Regions from separate parts of the Homo sapiens genome. Here region 2 is linked to region 1. A link means that fine-mapping ties the variant in region 1 to the expression of a gene that starts in the linked region. Tissue or cell type: whole blood. Region 1 holds a variant in brackets; the other region holds the start of a gene. All regions are shown on one strand. Distances are between the middles of the regions.

What was found. PIP is the estimated chance that this variant, and not a neighbour inherited with it, causes the effect.
Region 2: PCGF2 starts here. The variant in region 1 is fine-mapped to the expression of PCGF2 in whole blood (INTERVAL, PIP above 0.99).

The regions. Positions count from the first base shown.
Region 1 is chr17:38,851,764-38,859,862 of GRCh38, forward strand. It overlaps RPL23 (ribosomal protein L23), which reads right to left and starts at 1,958. Exons shown (of 5, transcript NM_000978.4): 1 at 1,935-1,958; 2 at 1,259-1,342; 3 at 841-969. The coding sequence starts at 1,947. SNORA21 (small nucleolar RNA, H/ACA box 21) reads right to left here and starts at 1,232; the gene lies at 1,100-1,232. It also overlaps the pseudogene RPS20P35. RefSeq lists enhancers at 811-1,594, 905-2,104, 1,595-2,378, 2,102-2,211. The variant CT/C (reference allele first, on the strand shown) is at 3,961.
Region 2 is chr17:38,744,520-38,752,601 of GRCh38, forward strand. PCGF2 (polycomb group ring finger 2) reads right to left here and starts at 3,817. Exons shown (of 11, transcript NM_007144.3): 1 at 3,677-3,817; 2 at 3,360-3,452. TRN-GTT2-5 (tRNA-Asn (anticodon GTT) 2-5) reads right to left here and starts at 7,335; the gene lies at 7,262-7,335. It overlaps LOC100287808 (a long non-coding RNA gene), which reads left to right and starts at 4,515. Exons shown (of 1, transcript NR_149004.1): 1 at 4,515-7,233. RefSeq lists enhancers at 856-1,621, 1,622-2,386, 3,415-3,950.

The DNA.
Region 1 (8,099 bases):
TACTGGACAGCATCGTGGGGTGGATACAGGAATAGGAGTAACTGTAATACAGGGCTGACAAATCAACATCACATTTGTAAATCAAGGGATGGCCAGGAACTCTTTAGAAGAGCAAGACATCCCAGGGTAGAGACAGATTAGGCAGGCACAGGAAAAAAGTGCAAGCGCTGAAGTTAAAATGCACCAAACACCAGAAGTTCTAAAGCCAGACAGGACACAAGCTGCAAGTATTTTGAGGCCTCCCCCTTTAAATCATACACCTGACAGGAAAAATTTTGAGTGGGGAGCCTGAGATTAAGTAATGAGCAATTAGCCGGGTGTGGTGGTGCACACCTATGATCCCAGCTACTCGGGAGGCTGAGGCAGGACAATCTCTTGAGCCCGGGAGGTGGAGGTTGCAGTGAACAGATATGTGCCACTGCACTCCAGCCTGGGCAACAAGTGAGACTCCATCTCAAAAACAAATAATAAAATAAGCAACGGGCAGCTTGTTTTCGTTTTGTAATATATTTTTTTTTGAGAGCCCAGGAGGCGGAGGTTGCAGTGAGCCAAGATCGTGCCATTGCACTCCAGTATGGGCTGGGCGACAGAGAGAGACTCCATCTCAAAAAACAAAACAAAACAAAACAAAAACAACAACAAAAAAACAACTAAGGTATGGAAGTGACAAGATGATGGTCCCCCCTCCAACACAATATGAGCAAAAACTTAAGATACTTATCTCACACTGCCTCTCAATGGAAAACAAACTTGAGGCCTTGAAAACTGATCCATTTTCCAATAAAGGAAAGCGTCCCCCCACTACTCATCAGTATTAAGGTGGGCTCAGTGTTTACTCACCCTTTTTTCTGAGCTCTGGTTTGCCTTTCTTGACTGTGGCCATCACCATGTCACCCACACCAGCAGCGGGAAGTCTGTTCAGCCGTCCCTTGATCCCCTTCACGGAGATGATATACAGGTTTTTGGCTCCTACAAAAGAATGTAAATAAAAATAAAAAATGTTGAGGGCCATCAGGCCGTTCCATCAGTATAACATTTCCCAAACACTTCCAAAGCCCCTCCCTCCACTCACTGCCCAAGCAGTTAGTCCGCAAGAACGCCTTGTCACACCACCGATTGAAGCAAACAACACATGTTGCCACTTCACCCAAAAGCGATGTTTTCACTCTCCCCTTTCTTGACGGCTCAATAGGTCATTAGCCACAGGCCCATTGAGTGCTTTTAAAAGGGGGAGTATAGCAACGTGCAAAGACCTCACCTGTGTTGTCAGCACAATTGATTACAGCTCCTACCGGAAGACCCAAGGAAATCCGGAATTTCGCACCAGAGGACCCACCACGTCCTGTGGATATAAAGGGAAGGGAAACAGGATAAAGAGATCACAATCTAGACATGGTTCGGAGTTCCCCCTCATACTCAAGCTGTAATTCACCGCACATGCTTTGATAGACTGTACGCTATAGATTAGCTCGCTCGGATTTTACTTATGCCGTCCCCATGTGCCACCCGATTCTCACGGAAAGTAGCCTATTTCTTACTATTAACACTCTGACATCGAAATTAAGAAACCTAGACGACTCAACCCTTGCTCTAACTTTCGCAAAACGCAATTACTCCTGCAAGGCATAAAACCGCAGAGGTCGCGCAAACCAGGGCCTAATCCAGTCTAACTTCAACCCCATTACGATAGCCCTATTCGCGGAGCGATCTCGCGGTATCCAGACTACATTCACGTCGGGATCCTGCCATCTCAACTCTCCAGCACCCCACTGCCACTTTCGAGGGCCCTGGCAGTGCTCTCGCGGTGGCCTGGCTCTCTCTCTCCGGCCTGAAGGAGAGCAAAGCGCCCCAGCTGCCTAGGGCCACCGCTCCTGACGAATCCGCCAGCCACTGCACGACAGATGGTGGAGGATCCTCCAGAAACAAAACCTCACCTCGCTTCGACATCTTGAACGCCGGAAAAAAGAAAAAAGGAAGTCGATTCAAAGGACACTGGGATATGAACTTTAACGCCCCGCCCACCCTCCTCACGTGGCCGGAGCAAAAACCGGCCTCTTCCGCCTCTGGGCGCTGCCTTATTACGTAATAAGTTTACGACGTCGCTTTTAGCCCTCTCTGCGAAGTGGGAGTTGAGGTAGAAGCGCAAGAGATAGGAAGTATCTTCTCTACGAGCTTAAGAGTAGTTAGGGACATGGAAACAGTGATTTGTTAACTTGCTCACGACCTCTTTTGACCACTTAATAGTGCCAGGCACTTATCTGCACACTAGAGAATAGGAATTAAAACACGGTTTGTGCCGTGTGGGGGTTCCCCAAGGAACAAAGAAAGTGGGGGAGGGAGGGAGAACAAGCTCTAAACGGTTTCGTTGAATGTAATACAGTTGAGAAGTGCTGCAGATCATTCCATCTATGTGTTCTTGGTATCATACCATTCTGTATTTTACATATACAGTATTGCTCTATTTATTGACCCGTCCCCCCCAACACACACTCTTTTTTTCTTTTTTTGAGACCGAGTCTCACTCTGTCGCCCAGGCTGGAGTATAGTGGCGAGATCTCAGCTCACTGCAACCTCCGTCTTCCGGGTTCAAGCAATTCTCTGTCTCAGCCTCAGAGTACCTGAGACCACAGGCGCCCGCCACAACGCTGGGCTAATTTTTGTATTTTTAGTAGAGACGGGGTTTCGCCATGTTATTGGCCAGGCTGGTCTCGAACTTCTGATCTCAAGTGATCTGCCCGCCTTGGTCCCTCAAAGTGCTGGGATTACAGGCGTGAGCCCCCGCGCCAGGCCTAATTGCTCCTTTCACAGCTTCAGCCGCCCCTTATTCTCTGGGTTCTTTCCTTCCCACGATACATTAATTCACATACTTATTGAGCTCCTACTTTACAGCAGGTTCTGTCCAGGGCGTACAGCGGATTACATCAGAGAACAAAATAGATCAACATTCTTTTCCTTATGGAGCTTACATTCTGCTGGGGTGCAGGTGGAGGAGGATATTAGACACTAAACAAAAGATATAATAAGTAATTGCAGTATGTAGTATGTTAGATGGGGATATGTATTATAAAAATATAAATAGTATCGCTTCTCGGCCTTTTGGCCAAGATCAAGTGTAAAATATAAATAGTGGCCGGGCCTTGTGGCTCACGCTTGTAATCCCAGCACTTTGGGAGGCCGAGGCGGGTGGATCACGAGGTCAGGAGATCGAGACTAGCCTGGCCAACACAGGGAAACTCCGTCTCTACTAAAAATACAAAAATTAGCTGGGCGTGGTGGCGGGCGCCTGTAATCCCAGCTACTCCGGAGGCTGAGGCAGGAGAATCGCTTGAACCCAGAAGGCAGAGGCGGCAGTGAGCCGAGATCGCGCTACTGCACTCCAGCCTGGGCGACAGAGCTAGACTCCGTCTCAAAAATGTATATAGATAAATAGCTCTTTGAGGAAGACGCGGTCGTAGGTGTTGCGGATCGCTGATCCGCACGCTCCTGCTACTGACTCACCGCTGTTCGCCCTCGCCGAGGAACCAGTCGCTCAGGAAGCCGCGCAGCAGCCATGGCTTTTAAGGATACCGGAAAAACACCCAGGGAGGCGGAGGTGGCAATTCACGAATTCGAGTCACTCTAACGAGCCGCATCGTAAAATCCCTGGAGAAGGTGTGTGCTGACTTGATCAGAGGAGCAAAGGAAAATAATCTCAAAGTGAAAGGACCAGTTCGAATGCCTGCCAAGACTTTGAGAATCACTTCAAGAAAAACTTTGTGGTGAAGGTTCTAAGACATGGGATCATTTCCAGATGAGAATCCACAAGTGACTCATTGACTTGCACAGTCCTTCTGAGATTGTTAAGCAGATTACTTCCATCAGTATTGAGCCAGGAGTTGAGGTGGAAGTCACCATTGCAGATGCTTAAGTCAACTATTTTAATAAATTGATTACCAGTTTTTTTTTCTTTTTCTTTTCTTT[CT/C]TTTCTTTCTTTCTTTCTTTTTTTTTTTTGAGACGGAGTTTCGCTCTTGTTGCCCAGGCTGGAGTGCAGTGGCGCGATCTTGGCTCACCGCAACCTCCACGGCCGATATCTATCTATCTATCTCTATCTATCTCTCTCTCTCTCTCTATCTCTATAGAGATATATATCTATAGAGATAGATAGAGATATATCTATCTCTATGTATTTATCTATATTAAAAACAACTGGTAATCGGCCGGGCGCGCTGGCTCACGCCTGTAATCCCAGCACTTTGGGAGGCCAAGGCGGGCAGATCACCTGAGGTCAGGAGTTCGAGACCAACCTGGCCAAAATGGTGAAACCTCGTTTCTACAACAATACAAACATTAGCCAGGCGCAGTGGTTCACGCCTGTAATCCCAGCGCCTTGGGAGGCCGAGGCGGTCGGATCACCTGAGGTCGGGAGTTTGAGACCAGCCTGACGACCAACTTGGAGAAACCCCATCTCTACTAAAAATACAAAATTAGCTGGGCGTGGTGGCACATGCCTGTAATCCCAGCTACTCAGGAGGCTGAGGCAGGAGAATCTCTTGAAACCCGGGAGGTGGAGGTTTCAGTGAGCTGAGATTGCACCATTGCACTCCAGCCTGGGCAACAAGAGCGTTTGAAACTCTGTCTCAAAAAAAAAAAAACAAAACAAAACAAAAATGGGGCCAGGTGTGGTGGCTCATGCCTGTAATTCCATCACTTTGGGAGGCCAAGGTGGGTGTATTACTTGAGGTCAGGAGTCAGAGACCAGCTTGCCCTAAATAGCAAAACTCTGTCTCTACTAAAAATACAAAAATTAGCAAGGCATGGTGGCTCATGCCGGTAATTCTAGCACTTTGGGAGGCCGAGGCTGGTAGACTGCCTCAGCTCAGGAGCTGAAGACCCAGCCCAAGCAACATGGCGAAACCCTGTCTCTACTAAAAATACAAAAAATTAGCCAGGCGTGGTGCGTGCCTGCAGTCCCCAGCTACTCGGGAGGCTGAGGCACGAGAATCACTGGAACCCAGGAGGTGGAGGTTGCAGTGAGCCGAGATCGCGCCAGTGCACTCTAGCCTGGGTGACAGAGCAAGATTCCGTCTCAAAAAAAAAAAAAAAAAGATATTGACATGAAACCAGGCACAGTGGCTCACATCTATAATCCCGAAACAATTTGGGAGGTTGAAGCAGGAGGATCCCTTGAGCCCAGGAGTCTGAGACCTGCCTGGGCAACATAGGGAGAGTCCATCTCTACAAAACATTTAAAAATTAGCTGGTGGCGGCTGGGTACAGTGGCTCATGCCTGTAATCCCAGCACTTTGGGAGGCTGAGGCAGGCAGATCATCTGAGGTCAGAAATTTGAGACCAGCCTGCCCGTCATGGTGAAACCCCATCTCTACTAAAAATACAAAAATCAGCTGGGCATGGTGGTGGGCAACCTGTAATCCCAAGTACCCAGGAATCTGAGACAGGAGAATTGTTTGAAGCCGGGAGGCGGAGGTTGCAGTGAGCCCAGATTGCGCCACTGCACTCCAGCCTGAGCAACAGAGCGAGACTCTGTCTTAAAATAAAATAAAATAAAATAAGCTGGTGGCATGGGAATCTGAGGCAGGAGAATCACTTAAACCCAGGAATTGGGGACTGCAGTGAGCCGTGATTGCACCACTGCACTCCAACCTGGGCTACAGAGAGAAACCCTTTGTCATTTTCCAATAAAAAGCCCTAAGGCAGGGGTGTGACTGAACCGAATGAGCACCAGCAAGGAAGCCAGATGTGACTGGACAGGACGAGTAAAGAGCAAAGTAGTAAGAAATGCAGTCAGAAGTAATGGAACGGTGGCTCACACCTGTAATCCCAGCACTTTAGGAGGCCAAGGCAGGTGATAACCTGAGGTCAGGAGTTCAAGACCAGCCTGGCCAACATGGTGAAACCCTGTCTCTACAAAAATACAAAAATTAACCATGCATGATGGCAGGTGCCTGTAATCCCAGCTACTTGGTGGGTTGAGGTGGGAGAATCATGTGAACCTGGGAGGCAGAGGTTGCAGTGAGCCGAGATCACACCATTGCACTCCAGCCTAGGTGACAGAGCGAGAGTTCTGTCTCAAAAAAAGGAAGTCATGGAATGAAACCACTGTGGACTTTGGCATTGGCTGAGTGAAATGAGGAAACATTCTTTGATTTTAAGCAGAGGAGGGACATGATTTGACTAATGTGTCAGAAGGATCACTGTGGTTGAGTTGTTGAGACTACACTGTGGGAGAGGACACAGGGATAGAAGTAAGAAGATCCATTAGGAAGCTATTGCAGTAACCCAGGAGAGAAATGATGGTGGTTTGGACTAGAATGGTAGTAGTGGATGTAATGTAGTCAGATTCTGGATGTGTTTTGGAGGTAGAGCCAATAAAATGTGGGGTATGAAAGATAGGAATCAAAATGTCTCCAAGTCTTTAGGCCTGAGCAATTGGAAGATATCATTGCCGTCAACCAAGATGGAGAAGGCTATGGTTATAGGAGGAATAGTGTTCCTGGTTGGTACTACCACCAGTGTCTCAACCAAAAAACAGGGACACAATTAATTCTCTTCTCCCAGGCTCCTAGAAGTAGTCACCAAGGTCTATCAACTTGACTCTGTTTCCTAAATTTTTCTGCCCATGCCTTCCACGTTCTGCCTTTGTTTCAAAGCTATTGCATCGGCCTCTATATGGTCAGACCATAATTTCCCACTGCTTAAAATCATGTGCTGGCCAGGCATGGTGGCTCACACCTGTAATCCCAGCACTTTGGGAGGCCGAGGCAGGCAGATCACCCGAGGCCAGGAGTTTGAGACCAGCCTGGCCAACATGGTGAAACCCTGTCTCTAATAAAAATACAAAAATTAGTCAGGGGTGATGGCACGCACCTGTGATCCCAGGTATTCAGGAGGCTAAGCAGAAGAATTGCTTGAACCCAGGAGGCAGAGTTGCAGTGAGCCGAGGTTGCCCCACCGCACTCCAGCCTGGGCATGCAGTGAGACTCCATCTCAAGGAAAAAAAAAAAAAAAAAAAACAAGAAAACAAAACAAAAAACATGTACCGACCCTCTGGTACTTATAGAATACAGTCCAAGCTGTTTAAGCATCGAAGTCACTTGAAATGGCCTACCTCTTCCCTGGCTCCATCTTCTGCCACCTTGCCTCTTATATTTCACACACCAGAAACACCAAACCAGTTAGGATTTCTGGACATATAGCTTAGATTCACACTTTCTTGTATTTATGCATTCACCTGCTTTAGCCACTATGTGTTATTTATTTATTTATTTATTTTGAGACAGAGTTTCACTCTTGTTGCCCAGGCTGGGGTGTAATGGCACCATCTCAGCTCACTGCAACCTTTGCCTCCAGGATTCAAGTGATTCTCCTGCTTCGGCCTCCCAAGTAGCTGGAATTACAGGTGTACACCACCATGGCCAGCTAATTTTTTTTTTTTTTTGTATTTTTAGTAGAGATGGGGATTTTACCATGTTGGTCAGGCTAGTCTCGAACTCCTGACCTCAAATGATCCACCTGCCTCAGCCTCCCAAAGTGCTAGGATTACAGGTGTGAGCCACCATGCCCGTCCAACCTGTTCTTTAAAACTCTGCTCAGGTATCATTTCTTCTCTGAGCCGTTTCACAACCCCAGCAGTTTATTCTCTGAGCCACTTCTTTACTAGGAGCTGTGGTTCTCAAATATTTTCATTTTAGACCCCTTTACACTCTTTTTTTTTTTTTTTTTTTTTTAAGACAGAATCTCACTCTGTCACCCAGGCTGGAGTGCAGTGGGACCATGTTGGCTCACTGCAACCTCCATCTCCTGGGTTCAAGCAATTCTCCTGCCTTAGCCTCCTGAGTAGCTAGGATTACAGGCGCCCACTACCACGCCCGGCTAATTTTTTTATATTTTTAGTAGAGACGGGGTTTCACCATGTTGGCTAGTCTGGTCTCAAATTCCTGAACTCAGGTGATCCATCCGCCTCGGCCTCCCAAAGTGCTGGGATTACAGGCGTGAGCCACTGTGCCCGGCCCTTTTTTTTTTTTTGAGACGAAGTTTTGCTCTTGTTGCCCAGGCTGGAGTGCAATGGTGTGATCTCAGCTCAATGCAACCTCTGCTTCCCG
Region 2 (8,082 bases), 110 kb before region 1:
TAATTTTTGTATTTTTAGTAGAGACAGGGTTTCACCATGTTGGCCAGGCTGGTTTCCAACTCCTGGCCTCAAGTGATCTGCCCGCCTCGGCCTCCCAAACTGCTGGGATTACAGGCATGAGCCACCACACCCAGACCCATCTCTCCATTTTAACCAGTGTCTTTCTGGAAGCCACCCTGCAATTTAGGCCTCTCTCACTTCTTCATGGTCCCCTGTGGAAACAGTGGGTCTCCCAGCCCCAAGGCCCCTGTGCTTCTCTGATGCCATAGCTCTCTCTGCTCTCCCTGCCTCCAAATGAAATCAGCCCCACTCCCTCACTAGAATGTCTCCAGGTCTTGGGAAAAGTCACTCAAGGTCACATCCAGATGTCTAGAACTGCAGAGGTGAAAGGGCTTTTAGAAAGCACCTTGTTCAGCTGGGCGTGGTGGCTCACACCTGTAATCCCAACACTTTGGGAGGCCAAGGCGGATGGATCATGAGGTCAGGAGTTCAAAACCAGGCTGGCAAAGATGGTGAAACCCCATCTCTACTAAAAATACATGGTGGCTCACGTCCGTAATCCCAGCACTTCGGGAGGCCAAGACGGGCGGATCATGAGGTCAGGAGATCGAGACCATCCTGGCTAACATGGTGAAACCCCGTCTCTACTAAAAATACAAAACATTAGTTGGGTGTGGTGGCACGCGCCTCTAGTCCCAGCTACTCGGGAGGCTGAGGCAGGAGAATCGCTTGAATCCAGGAGGCAGAGGTTGCAGTGAGCCGAGATTGCGCCACTGCACTCCAGCCTGGGCAACAGAGCGAGACTCTGTCTCAAACAAACAAACAAAAATACAAAAATTAGCGGAGCATGGTGGCAGGCGCCTGTAATCCCAGCTACTCAGGAGGCTGAGCCAGAGAATTGCTTGAACCTGGGAGGCAGAGGTTGCAGTGAGTGGAGATCGTGCCACTGCACTCCAAGCTGGGCCACAGAGTGAAAGAAACTCCATCTCAAAAAAAGAGAAAAAGAAAAAGAAGCACCTGTTCAATCCTTTCATTTTACAGATGAGCACACTCAGATGTGACTTGTCTAAGGTCACAAAGCAAAGCAGTGGCAGTCCTGTGACAAGAAAGTGCCTGACTCCCACCCCAGTGCTTTTAACATCCTGGCACCTGGCCAGGCTCCTCACTCATCTAAAGCAGTAATGCCCGGCTTCATCCCAGCAGGTGGGAGGGGAAAAGAGCAGCTCCCTGGAGTGGCGGGAAAACCACTCAGTGGGCCGCCGTCTGGGAGGGAGTCAGTCTGGCCCAAACATGACCATCAGCATGGACTCCTGCCTTGAGGCAGGAAGAGGAGGCACATGTTAATTGCCTTACCCCACTTCCTACACATAGGGAAACAGAGGCTGCAGGGAAGCACAGCCAGCCAGAGTACAGCATCAAGACTCAGACCAGGGGTTTTATGACTCTGTTCCTCTCCCAGCTTCGTGGGTCCAACTGCGCAAGCCCCTTGTATTTGTGTTTGGGGCCGTGAGGGTCTGCCTAGGGACACTGTGAACCTCCCAACTTTCCCCAATCCTTGACAATGGCACAAAGATCTGCTCCCCTGTCCCCACCATGCATTGAAAAGGGCCTCCTGAAGCTGGGCTTACTCAACCCTCCCTTCCTCCCTCTCCCACCTCTCAACTCCCTAAGATCAAACAAAGGCAAAACCCCAAAATATACACATTGCCAGATACACACACATACAGCAAGACACACCCCCCTCCACCTCTCACACTCACTACACACAAGGCCAGATAGACACGCCACAACCCTCCCCCACCCTGCGCCACACACACACACAATCACAGCCAGACCAGAGCCAGGCCCACCCTCGCTACATGCAGAAGCCATCCACATCCACCCCCCACCTAGAAGCACACAGCCTGACATCCCTGCCTGGAAACAGACCCTGCAAACACACACTAACCTTTTGTACGACCCTGGTCCACCCAGGGTAAATTATAACATAAGTCTTCCAGCAACAAAAGCAGTTCAGCTTCCAAAGTCCGCTCTGGGGACCAGAGGCTGGAGGGCTGCAGTGGGCATGTGACCTGCACAAAGCTGTACCCTCTTCCTGTTCGGGCTCTCTCCATTCCCATGACAACAGCTCCATCAACCAAGATCTCTCAGGCAAGGCCAGGGGCAGCAGAGTCCCCCTTCCTGCCCAACCCCCAAGACTTCAACTTGAACCCTACCTAGCTACACATGGTCTGGATCCTGGGGTTGGTTTCCTGCTTCATTCCAAAGTCAGTTCTAAAGCCTCAATCCCCCAACCCCCAACCAGGGGAGCCCGTGGGAAAACCTTCCCACCAAAAAGCTGCAACAGAGCTGGCTTTATGCTCCCAGTAATAACACCTTGGACCAGAGTGAAGGGGGGAGGGAGGAGAGAAATTAAAGAGTTTCAGGAACAGAAACTGCCAGAGGTCCCAGAGGAGGAGGCATCAGAACAGAGCGGGGAGGGGACAACCAGGAGACAGCCCTCCCCTCGAGACAGACCTCTGGGGAGACTGAGGCAGCATGGGGGACACTGAGGGACAAAGATCTCGGGAAGCGCTGGGTAACACTTCCACAATATTCACTGGCAAATCCACCCGCCTCCATGCCGCCTCCTCCCACCTCAAGCCAACCGGAGCGATTATGGGCAGACAGGGGCAGTGGGGGAGGGCGAGGGGCAGCCCGGGCCCACCGTGGAGACAGGCAGGGGGTGTCTGCTTGCCCGGGGGTCCCACGCCCTCAGAGCTAGCAGTAGGAGGGCGTGCGCAGGGTGGGGTGGCTGGGCGTCCCAGGGGAAGGGGGGCCAGTTTAGCAGATCCCCCTGCTTCCGCTGGCGATGGGAAATATTGCGATAAATTTCCCTCCATCCCCATTCTACCCCCAGCGCCCGGGCTTCCCCAGGAGCCCATGTCCAAGGATCAGGGACCCCAGTTACCGGGTGGCCGCTCCCACCTTCCCTAGAGCCAAACTTTCTGCGGGGCCCCGGGAGGGGTGTTCCGGAGGGAGGCTCTGCTGAGGTGGTTCGGGGAGGGGGCGGGGCGCCGGCGCCGGGACGGGGAGCGGGGACCGGCGGGGGGAGGTGCCCGAGAGGACCCGGACCCCGGCGGGGAAGGGCGCCCTCCCCCGGCCTCGCGGCCGCCCCAAAGCACATCCCCTTCTGCCGGCCCCAAGTCCCCGCGCGTCCACGGCGCCCCTGTGCCCACGGGAGAGCGACCCCCGCCCAGATGGAAAAGGGGGTAGACCGGGCAGAGCGAGAGGCGGCTTTGGCTCGTGGGGAGCGGCGACCCAACCCAGCGCGCATCCCGCAAGCCCTCCCGGCTGCCCCGGACCTTCCCCCTCGCTACCTCGGAACAGGGTCTGCCCGGGGGCTGCTGCACAAAGAGGTGGTGGTCGAGGGAGACGCCAAATCGTTAAGACGGGGAGCCCGTTTCGGCCATCTTGGAAGAGAGGAAAGGGAAAAAGGGACAGAAAAAAGGGAGAAAGAAAGGCGGACGGGGCAAGCTGGGCTAGGGACTGACGGGGCGCGGGGGGTGCGAAGGCAGGATCGGCTCAGAGCCTCCCCCTCCCATCGGGGCTTGCGAAGAACGGCCGGCCCCCATCCCAATCCCCAGAGGGTTACAGGCCAGGAGAGGGAAAGGCAGGGGGAGTCCGCTCCGCTTACCTGGGTTCGGGGTCCGGTGGGTCTCGGGGAGGGGGGGATGGGAGGGAGGGAGGGAAGGGAGGGGAGGGGGGCCGCAGCCGTGTCGCTCGCCCGGGCGGCGGGAGGGGAGAAACCTACGGTAAGAAAGGAGTTTGTGAAAGCGGCTTGGGGTGGGAGGGAGAGGGGAGGGGAGGGGACCGAGGGGGGAGGGGAGGGACCGGAGTGTGGGGGGGAGACAAAATGGCTTTTTTCCTCCAGACAAGAGTAGGTCCCGCCCACCACTCACCCACGTGACCTCATTCCTTCAGGATGCTGGCAGAGACGGGAAGAGGAGGGGGAGGCTGGCGCGGCCGCTCCCCGCCACCGGCTGCCGGGTCCCTAGCCAGGACGAGACCCCTCCCTTCCCATGCGGCCGCCCCGACCCCGGAGGATGGATTCTCTTATGTTACCTTCCGCAGTTAGCCCCCCTCCCTTCAAAATATGGGTTCCCCCCACTGACACTGTGATGCCCATCCCTAACTGGGGCGCCTGGAAAATGGTGAAATGGGGACTGGGCTGAAAGGTGGCTCGTGGTCCTCCACGCCCCGGCCTAGACCAAAGGGCGCGGGGCTCCGGCGGGGGACGCGACGCCTTCAGCCAGGCGTCCGAGCGATTTTCATTCACTCCAAGTGACACTCCCTTAAAATTAATAACTGCATCTGGGAGGGCGAGCGTGTCCTCCCCACTCCCCTTGCCCCCTCGGCGGCAGGGGCGCTGGCCCCGAAAAGCGGCGCACCAGGATCCAGCCTGGGCGCCTGGCAGGGAGCAATCGCGAGAGGGGAGTGGAGGTGCGGGGTGAGGCCGGGTGGGGGGCCTCGCCGCGGGGGGATCGGGTAGCTCTGGCGGAGGCTGCGCCCCCGGCGTGCTCGGGCAGAGAAGAACGGAGGCCCGCTGAGGATGGGAACTCAGGCTCCGGGTCTGGGACACAATAATCCGGCCGAAGGCGAGCGGCCACACTGGACTAGGAAACGAGGCGCCGGGCTGTAAGGTGGGCCCGCGCCTTTTCTCCTGCCTGGCGCTGATTCCCGCATTTTTCGCTCGCGCCCTGCGCTGCGCGCTGCCTGTGCGCCTCCCTGGGCGCGCGGGCGGGAGAGTCGGGCGAGCGCCAAGACGGCTGGGCCCGACTCCCACTGGCGCCCCGGCTCCACCTGGCGCTGGGGCTCCGGTCCGCAGTGGCTCCGGCAGGAGGGAGAGAACGAGGAGGGAGGCTTGGAAACGCCGGGAGTAGCGGTGAGGCCGACGCCGGGGAAGCGAATCGATACTGCGTTACTGGACGCCCGTGGGCCTCATGAGGATGGTCGATTCCCTCATTCGTTATTCACGATTTATTAGGGATGGCGGCCGCGTCTGTCCCTCCAGAGAGCTCGATTATCCATCCGGCCAGCAGCGCCATTAAGCGCACTGACGGTGGGAGGCTCGAGTTAGAAATTAGGATAGGAATCTTCGCCCAGTTTTGGAGCGCCTGCCTCCTCTTCCCTCGTTGCTCGCAGCCAAGGCAGCCGCGAAGCTGGGGGCCTCGGGTGAATGCTTTCGCCCTCTGGCCGGCGACCAGGAGACCTGCGCACACTGGCCGCCGAGTGACCCCAGCTCGAGCCTGCAGCCACACCAGCGGGACGGGGGCGGGGAGGAAGAGGAAGGGCGGAGAGACTTCCTTCCAGAGGGAGTGGTCCGAGAACCGGCGGGAGAAGGGCCAAGGGAAGATCCGGTCACCTGCTCCGGAGCCTGCAGGCGGAGAGGCGAGTAGTTCACCGGCCCCGGAGGAAAGGGGACCCTCCCACTGTTCCCAGGCAAATGTGTCGCCGGCATCCTGCACTCTGCCGGGGAAGACGCGCATCCACTCGCTCTGCAGGGAGGGGAACGCGGGAAGGACTCCCAGTCAGCCGCCCCTCTCTGGCTACAAGACCCCGAACAAGAGAAACCTGTAACAGGGGCTCTGCGGAGATCTGGATCCCACCCACCAACCACATGGGCACCTGGGGGGCTGCCCCTCGGGGCATTATCAGCCAGTGGGAAGGGGGTTGACGTTCCTCTGCGGCCCATGAATCCTGGAGGGCTGCCCGAGGGGCCACCGGGGTCCATCCACTTATTCTTCGGTTGTTAAGCGCCAGACAGGAGAGAACCGCTAGAGAGGAGTGTGCTAAGACCCTATTACCCACTAAAACTCCATTTTCATCTTTTGCGTCCTGGATGACTAGTCTCCACATTCCTGGCCTTTCTGGTTTCTCAGGAGAACCTTCTGACCCAACTCTTCCCACATCGAAAGAGTTTCCTAGTCTTTTGTTCTACTACTAGCCGACATAGAAAGCACCTGTCATGTGCCAGTGTCAAATACTGCGCTAGGAACTGGGAACTCAAGGCACAGGAGCCTGGCTTTTGCGCAGGGCGCTCACAGGCCGGTGGGTGCAAACCCTGAAGGACACACAGCCTGTCCCTTTAGCGCCCATCGCTTCTGGTGTGAGCTCCCGCTAAGGGTGGGTGAGTACTGGGGTGGGCTTCCAGAAGAGGCCTCCTTTGAGCCGAATCTGCAGAGACCAAGTGTCTATGAGAACTGCTCAAGAGTGCTTTGCACATTCTCCTCCACAAAGGTCGAGGCTCCCACTGCGCCCAGGAATGCGCCTCGTCAGACATTAGGCGCCCCTTGATTTTGTGTTTGCATCTCACGCGGTCCTCTAGCTGACAAGTGCATCAGAAGAGTCACAGTGGCTGTCACAAGCCAGAGACTCGCAGAGGACAGGAACGCGGGAAATCTAGGCAATTACCTCCAGCATATACCAAGAGCTATTGCGAGGATCAGATCCCTTTAAAAATGGTGACGAGACAGGAGAGGGCGGCTCCTCTAGAGCTTTCCGGAACGTCTTTACCTCTGTGTCCTTTATACCTTTTATCTCCCCCAAACAAGGTCCTTAGTCAGTTTCTCCTTCTATTTCCCCATCTTCCTCCCCCACCTCCCTGTGTAGTTCTAGGGGGAAAAAATGTGTTGTTTTCCTTTTTTTCTGATGCTTCTAATATTAAATGCGTCTATTTTCCCACTCTCCATTGTCTTGAGGTCTTCCCCTACCCACCCTGCCTAGTTCTGTCACGTCCCTTCTTTCCCTGTATCACAACAATGTTCTCCCTTTCTCACCTTTGTTTCTCTTCATACTTGTTTCTCTCTCTGTGTCTCTCTCATTCTCTTCCCTTCCAAATGTAGTATTTGGAGACTGTAATATCGATTGAGGCAGACAATAGAAAACTGTCGAACCTCCACTGTAAATTCATTCTTAATCCTATGAAAAAATGCATCCTGAAACGTGTTGCATGCACAGTGAGACAAAAACCTGTGTCTTTAGGTTTCCTGCGATCTAGCTTGGAGGCGGGTTGGGGGGGTGTGGAGGGAAGTGCTGGAGAAATTATCCCATTATTGACTGAGCAGCAAAGAATTTTCAAGAACAGTGATTCTCCTAGAAAAAGTATTGCTGCTGCCATTTCAATGCAAAATTTGGCTTTTGAGTAAAAGGCTTAGGTTTTTATCTTCCGGGGAGAAAAAAAAAACCCAAAAGACAAAAAAAAAAAAAAAAAAGGTCATAGCGTCCCTGGGTGGGCTCGAACCACCAACCTTTCGGTTAACAGCCGAACGCGCTAACCGATTGCGCCACAGAGACCGAGTCGACTACCGGCGTAGTAGTGAGCCGAGTCAATGGGAGCGAGCCTGGACGGCGCAGACGCCGTAAGAGATGCCGCCATCGGGCGAAATAAGTGGAACCCGGGGGAGAAAGGGAAGGATCCTGATGGGGGAGGGAGGCGAAAGAGCTTGGGAGGAGAGGACGCGGGACGTGCACGCCCTTCCTCCATTGGAACGGCGAGAGGTCGACTCTGGCTATCCTCAGGTTCTACCTCAAACGTGGAGAGGCGCGGAACGTCCCTTTTTAGGGTGACCTGAGATTGAGGATACGTGAAGTCGGGCCGCAGGAAGTCCCCCAAATCAGAACAAGCTTCGGCTTCCAAACTCCCTTTCACAGCTGAACCCCTGCAGCCGCAAAATACCCGCGACGCCTACACGCGACGCCTTCCCCTTCCCACCTGCATCATTAAATTTCCATTTAATGGGCGCCTCCTATATACTAGGCACTGTTGTGGGCCAGTGAATATTCCGAGCCTAGGCAAGTGCCTGGTACACAGTAAACGCAGGATTTCTGGAGTGAATAAATAAGCTAGCACGACTAATACGACGAACTCATACATCACGTTGATAAGCGTCACGGTGCCCCTTCAGCTGGGGCCGCAGCTTCCTAAACCCAGTTTCACCAGCCCACGTGCGCGCAGGCTCCGCCCCCAGTCCCTGAGGTCCCGAGTCCAGGTCCGCCGAGATCCCACTATGCACCGTGTCGCAAGTCTCTTCCGCAGCCACA